Homo sapiens: one gene and its partner. The protein of the gene in region 2 interacts with the protein of the main gene of each other region in a pairwise test. Each region holds a gene or a part of one and is shown on either strand. Other genes may lie near its edges.

What was found.
Region 1: the proteins of CSNK1G2 (region 2) and RUNDC3B interact in a two-hybrid assay, tested with the Homo sapiens proteins (one large-scale study listed by BioGRID and IntAct).

Annotation. Positions count from the first base shown.
Region 1 is NC_000007.14:87,826,904-87,830,200, forward strand, and holds part of RUNDC3B (RUN domain-containing protein 3B), read left to right. Parts: intron 1-2,981; coding exon 2,982-3,127; 3' UTR 3,128-3,297.
Region 2 is NC_000019.10:1,947,482-1,951,579, forward strand, and holds part of CSNK1G2 (casein kinase I), read left to right. Parts: intron 1-4,098. UniProt on the Homo sapiens protein: Serine/threonine-protein kinase. Casein kinases are operationally defined by their preferential utilization of acidic proteins such as caseins as substrates. It can phosphorylate a large number of proteins. Participates in Wnt signaling.

The DNA of each region.
Region 1 (3,297 bases), on a different chromosome or scaffold from region 2:
ATTTGTCTAGTTGTATAAAGGTAACAACTAGAACTAAAATACAAACCTTCCTAAATAATTTTTTTAAAGCAAATATGTCATCTAGAAAGAGAAGCATAGCAAATTTAACAAAGCAAAATAATTTGTCACAGCAGAGAGCCTATCAAAAGAAATTAATGAAATGGCAAACAACATATACCAAGGAGAGAAACAGTAAATATAACTATATACATAAAATTACAACAAAATTATGATTTATTCTGAATGGCTAAATATAAAGGAATAGACAAATATGTAACAGGCAAATAAAAATACAAACAAGGGGCCAGGCATGGTGGCTCATGCCTGTAATCCCAGCACTTTGGGAGGCTGAGGCGGGCAGATCACTTGAGGTCAGGAGTTCGAGACCAGCCTGACCAACATGGTGAAACACTGTCTCTATTAAAAATACAAAATTAGCCAGGTGCGGTGGTGGGCCCCTGTAATCCCAACTACTGGGGAGGCTGAGGCAGGTGAATTGCTTGAACCTGGGAGGCCGAGATTGCAGTGAGCTGAGACTGCGCCACTGCACTCAAGCCTGGGTGCTAGAGTGAGACTCTGTCTCAAAAACAAACAAACAAAACCAAAAAACACAAAGCAGGGTAGCAACCCTTATATCAGATGGGTAGATTTTAAACCAAAATGCATTAAGCATTACAAGGAAAGATATGTTTTAATGCTAAAAAAAATTAAGATATAACAGGATTATACAACAAATAATGATATCCCCCTTTATATAAGGAAACAGAAATCCAGTGACAGTTGAAGACATACTATTCTCAGTATAAGACAAATCAAATAGACAAAAAAGAATATAATACACCTAAACAACATAATTACTAGGGTATATCTTATGCTCTATGGAACTTTATAACCTGAAAATAGATAATATAACTTCTTCTTAAGTACAGATAGAACAGTCTCAAAAATGTTCAGAAGTTAGCTCATAAAGAAAACATAAGCTGGGTGCAGTGGTGCATGCCTGTAATCCCCCAGATACCTGGGTGGATTGTTTGAGCCCAGGAGTTCCTGACCATTCTGGGCAACACAGACCCTATCTCAAGAGAAAAAAGAAAGCAATAAATGTATAAAGTAAAATATTACAAACAGTATTCTCTAATCACAGTGCAAAAGAACCCTAGAAATTATTGATAACTTTTTTTTGTTGTTCAAAAGGGCCCCTCCACCTGGGTATAAACCCATCAAACAACTTGTGGGTAACAGGGAAATATAAGCTGAAATTAAATTTTCTTTTTTAAAATTATTATGTTCAGTAATTATTATACTGTCTTTTTTAAATATCAACTTTTATTTTAGATTCAAAGGGGTGTATTTGCAGGTTTGTTACATGGGTATATTGTGTGATGCTGAGGTTTAGGGTACAATTGATCCCATCACCCAAGTAGTTAGCATAGTACCCAACAGGTAGTTTTTCCACCCTTGCCCCCCACCACACCTCCCCTTCTAGTTGACCCCACTGTCTACCACTGCCATCTTTATATCCATGAGTATTCAGTGTTTAGCTCTCACTTATAAGAGATTATATGTGGTATTTGGTTTTCTATTCCTATGTTAATTCACTTAAGATAATGGCCTCTAGTTTCATCCATGTTGCTGCAAAGGACATGATGTCATTCCTTTTTTATGGCTGCATAGTAGTCCATGGTGTAGATGTACCACATTTTCTTTATCCAGTCCACTGCTGATGGGCTCCTAGGTTGATTCCATGTCTTTGCCATTGTGAATAGTGCTATGATGAACATATGAGTGCATATGTCTTTTTGGCAGAATGATTTATTTTCTTCTGGATATATACCCAGTAATGGGATTGCTGGGTCGAATGGTAATTCTGTTTTAAGTTCTTTGAGAAATCTTCAAATTGCTTTCCACAATGGCTGAACTAATTTGCCAGTAAATAAAAAGGGATTAACAAATGTGTAACAGGCAAATAGAAACACAAAGAAAGCAGCGTAGCAACCCTTATATCATGTCATTTGGTTTAAAATATCAGATTGTAAACCAAAATGCATTCCCTATTCTCAGTCACTTTGCCAACATCTGTTCTTTTTTGACTTTTAAAATAATAGCCATTGTGACTGGTGTGAGATGGTATCTCATTGTGGTTTTGATTTGCGTTTCTCTGATGATTACTGATGATGAGCATATATTCATGATTGTTGACCACTTCTGTGTCTTCTTTTGAGAAGTGTCTTCGTGTCTTTTGCTCACCTCTTAATGGGGTTATTTTTTGCTTGTTTAATGTTTAAGTTCCTTATAGATTCTGGATATCAGACATTTGTTGGATGCAGAGTTTACAAATATTTTCTCCCATTCTGGAGGTTGTCTGTTTACCCTGTTGATAGTTTCTTTTGCTGTGCAGAAGCTCTTTAGTTTAATTAGGTCCCTCTTGTCAATTTTTGGTTTTGTTGCAATTGCTTTTAAGGACTTACGTCATAAATTCTTTTCCTTATGTTTTATTTTTCTGCATATGGCTAGACAGCTATCCCAGCACCATTTATTGAATAGAGAGTCTTTTTCCCATTGCTTACTTTTGTCAACTTTGTCAAACATCAGATGGCTATACATGTGCAGCTTTATTTCTGGGTTCTCTATTCTGTTCCATTGGTCTTTGTGTCTGTATAACAGCACCTTTCTATTTTGGTTACAGCTTGAAGTTAGTTGATGTGATGCTTCTAGCTTTGTTCTTTTTTATTAAGATTGCTTTGGTATTTGTGCTTTTTGGTTCCATATGAACTGTAGGATTTTTTTTCTAATTCTGTGAAAAATGATGTTGGTACTTTAATGGGGATAGCAGTCAATCATGCAATTTGTTCTGTAGGTTTCTTTGGGCAGTATGGTCATTTTCACAGTATTGATTCTTCCAATTTCTAATGGTTTTAGGATCTTATTTGTATCATTCTTGAAGGGCAATTAATTATTTGCTATTTAATTCTAATTTTCAGGTAAGGAAGATACTCCCTCATTACTTGGCCTCTGTGGATCTCTAACGTCAGTGGCAAGTTACAAGTCTCTAACAAGCTTAAAATCTAATGACTACCTTGCAAGTCCTACAACAGAGATGACAAGTCCAGGCCTAACTCCATCCTGAAAATTTTTGTGTAAAAGCCAAAACTTTTTATGTTGTAAATGTTTAATTTACATGTTTGACTGCTGGGAAGACCTTTGAAATTTTATATTGTTCTGGTACATGTCTGAAATTCTATTGCTTGGAGAGAATCCCCTCCAGATAAGAGATTTTGAGTGAAAAACATAATGATC
Region 2 (4,098 bases):
GGCAGGGCAGCTGGCGCTGATGCCCAGGCTCTGCCTGGGGACAGTTCCCAGGACGGGAGCCTGAGGGCAGCGCACGGGACCAGCGTGAGGACACGGACTGGCCCGTGTCTGCCTCTGACTTGCTGGGTGTGCCTTTGAGTTCCTCTGAGGGTGGGTGCGCCGAGGGGGATCCAGCTGGGCCCTGGCCACGTGCAGGCCAGCCAGAGCCCTGGAGCCTGCAGGTGGGCTGGGACAGGGCTTGCGACCGCAGGGGTGGTGTGCGTTTGCGCTGGCGTCTGCACAGGTGTGTGCGTGCTGTGCCATCACGCTGGTCAGGCCTGTACGCCGTGGAGAGGGGCGCTGTGTGGGGCTCGCTGCCTGAGCCCTGGGTGGACCGTGGCTGCCCCATGAGTTGTCGGGGACCTCCGCTGCCCCTTGGACCTCGCCCGCGGCCCTGGGCAATGGGTGTGGTGACGTCCTGGGGCCCCCATGAGTCAGCTCGTCCTCGTGCCCGGGCACTGGCCTCTCCTTCCTGTGGGCGCACAGCCCCGGTTCCTCTGAAAGCTTCGTGGGCCGGGACCCGGGATGAGCTGGTTAAACCCTGGCCCTGTGAGCAGGAGGTGTGGCTTCGGGGGGCGGCCCCGCCCTGGGCTCAGACTTGATCCTGCACCGGAGGGAGCCATTCTGGAAGGCCGCTGCCCCGGGCCCTGTCCCTCCCCCTCTCATCCCCAGGGTGCTGGCCAGAGCCGGGCTCACAGCGTTTCTTAAAATTAACGATCCCGGCCGGGCGTGGTGGCTCACGCCTGTAATCCCAGCACTTTGGGAGGCCGAGGCGGGTGGATCACGAGGTCAGGAGATCGAGACCATCCTGGCTAACACAGTGAAACCCCGTCTCTACTAAAAAGACAAAAAATTAGCCGGGCGCGGTGGCAGGCGCCTGTACTCCCAGCTACTCGGGAGGCTGAGGGAGGAGAATGGCATGAACCCGGGAGGCGAAGCTTACAGTGAGCTGAGACCGCGCCATTGCACTCCATGTGGGCGACAGAGTGAGACTCCGTCTCAAAAAAAAAAAAAAAAAACGCAAAAAAAAAAAAGATCCCGTCACACTGACCCAGCTCACTGTTCTCTTACCAGCCTTATTTCGGTGTGGTCCTTAGAGCATGAGCCACTTTTTTTTGCTGGGAACATAATCCACGTTTGGTAAAATTCGGCAACGTGTGCACGCAAGTGGTTTTTGTACAGCTGACCCTTGAGCAGGGTGGGGTTTAGGGCAGCAGCCCCTCATGTAGCAAAATACCCTCGTATAGCTTTCGAGTCCTCCAGATGCCGCTGCCGACAGCCTGCTGGTGACCAGAGGCCTCGGGAGGACACGTGGTCCGCGCACACATACCTCGTGTGTTGTGTTAGGTGCTGCGTTCTCACAGTGAGGGAAGCTGGAGACCAGAACATGTGGAGAAAAGCAGAAGGAAGAGAAACCCTGTTTGCTCTTCACGCAGTGGAAGTAATGCTCATGGAAGCCTCTGTCCTCGTCGTGTTCACGTTGAGGGCTGAGGAAGGGAGGGTGGGTCTCGCTGTCTCGGGTGGCAGAGCGGGAAGGAGCCAGGAGAGGCTGGCGCCCTCAGGGCAACCTTTATTGAAAAAATCCACGTCAGAGTGGACCTGTCAGTTCAAACCTGCCGTGGTCAAGGCTCCTCTGTGAGTGCAGCCACCACCTGTAATTCCAGAGTGTTCTCATCACCTGCAAAGGGAGCCCTGGCCCCATCAGCAGCCAGCCTTCCACACCATCCTTTCCAGAACCTTCCCACCTTCCCAAATTGAGACGCTGTCTTCGTGAAACGTTCACTCCCGTGCCCTCTCCAGCCCCTGGCACCCCCATCCTACTTTCTGGCTCTGTGACTCTGAGGGCTCCAGGGACCTCCTAGGGGTGGAATCACACGGGATGAGGCCTGGTGTGTTTGGCGTCTCTCACTGAGTGTGACACCCTCGGTGCATCCGCGCCATGGCCCGCGTCCGAGTCTCGCTCCTGTTCGTGGCTGAGTCGTGTTCCGGCGTGTGGGTGGCCACGTGTTTATTTCTGTGATAGATGTTTGCATGGCATCCGCGTGTGGCTGCTGCGAGCACCCGTGTCCGGTTCCCGTGTGGCTGCGTGATTCTTCTGTCAGGTGGACTTCTAGCGGTGGAACCGCTGGTCACAGGGCCACTCCCGGTTGGACCATTTGAGGAGCCGCAGACGGCCATCCATACCTGCACTGTTTGGGTCCCCTGCCGGGTTTTGGGGACTGGATCTCTGCACAGCGACGACCACTCCCCTCTTCCGGTGACTTGGTTTCTCCTGTCCTTCGGCCCGATGCTTCTCTGGCCTGCAGGGCATCAGGGACCCTGCTGTCCTGATCCCCATGCCGTCTAGAAAGCCAGGGGTCCTGCATGTGCCCGGTGTCCCCACTGCCTTGTCAGGCACAGGGCCAGATCCTGCACCCTGTGACGAGCACGGCCAGTGGGACAGACAGATGGATGTGCTGCCCGTGACCTTCGCCACAGCGAGTTCAGAGGCCGGAGGCATCCAGTGTCCACAGAGTGACCGGTAGGCCCCAGCCCCACAGGATCATCGAGGTGGCCCTGGCCTTTCGAGGCCACAAAAATCAACGTTTATTTTTATTTATTTTATTTATTTATATATTTATTTATATATTTATTTATGAGACGGAGTCTCGCTCTGTCCCCCAGGCTGGAGTGTGGTGGCGTGAGCTCTGCTCACTGCAAGCTCTGCCTCCCGGGTTCACACCATTCTCCTGCCTCAGCCTCCCGAGTAGCTGGGACTACAGGCACCCGCCACCACACCCAGCTAATTGTTTGTATTTTTAGTAGAGACGGGGTTTCACTGTGTTTGCCAGGATGGTCTTGATCTCCAGACCTCGTGATCCGCCCTCCTCGGCCTCCCAAAGTGCTGGGATTACAGGCGTGAGCCACCGCGCCTGGCCATCAATGTTTATTTTTAAGTAGCAAAAGAGAACTCAGCAGTGTTGGAGAACTTGAACATTACAGCAACATCTGAAGAAGATGTTCTTTCACAAACCTCAGATTCCAGGAGATGAGCACCGTCCGCTTTCCAGAGAAAATTGTCTGAGGCCTCTGGGAGACAGGAGGGGGTGCACTTAGAAACAGCCAAGGCCTCCTTCCATGTTGGGACGGACGGGCCTTCCTGGGCTGGCCCGGCCTAAATCTGCTGCCGCCCACCGAACACCAAGGCACCTTCTCGTGCCCCAGAGGCCACCAGCACCCGTCCCCCTGCCTCCCTCCAGCCAGTGTCAGGTGGGGACCTGGCCGCTGGAAGGGAGGTGTCACCTGCTCTGGGGCATCCAGGAGGGAGGGGCTGCGGGAGTTTTGCTGGAGACCCTCCAGGTGGGGGTTATGGGGTATCATGGCGGAGCGTGTTGGGAAGTTTTCGGTGAGCTGGGCGTTTATTCGCCTTGGTGCCCCCCTAGATCCCTGGGTGATCCCCGTGCCCAGTTTTCAGGGGAGACCATGGGGGTCAGAGAGCTGGCCAGGCGGGTGGTCTGTGTCTGTCCCCTGCTGTTGAAATGAGGGGAGGTGAGAGGAGACGCCGTGTGCCTGGGGAGGCAACACTTTCTACCGTTTGCTGGTTTATAAAAATCAAAGATGGCCAGGCACGGTGGCTCACGCCTGTAATCCCAGCACTTTGGGAGGCCGAGACGGGCAGATCACGAGGTCAGGAGATTGAGACCATCCTGGCTCTACTAAAATACCCTGTCTCTACTAAAAAAAATACAAAAAATTAGCCGGGCGTGGTGGCGGGCGCCTGTAGTCCCAGCTACTCGGGAGGCTGAGGCAGGAGAATGGCGTGAACCCGGGAGGCGGAGCTTGCAGTGAGCCGAGATCGCACCACTGCACTCCAGCCTGGGCGACAGAGTGAGACTCCGTCTCAAAAAAAAAATAAAAAAAATCAAAGATGGGGGCCTGCTGGGACCGTTTGATTTCTTCCCATTCAGACCCTGCCAGATCCTGAGGCTGGCCCAGCTGCCTGTGTCCTCTGGGGCTCCCTGAGGAGGCAGCACCAGCTGTGGTGTGCATGACGGACAGGGGTCCCAGTTGGGGGGTGCA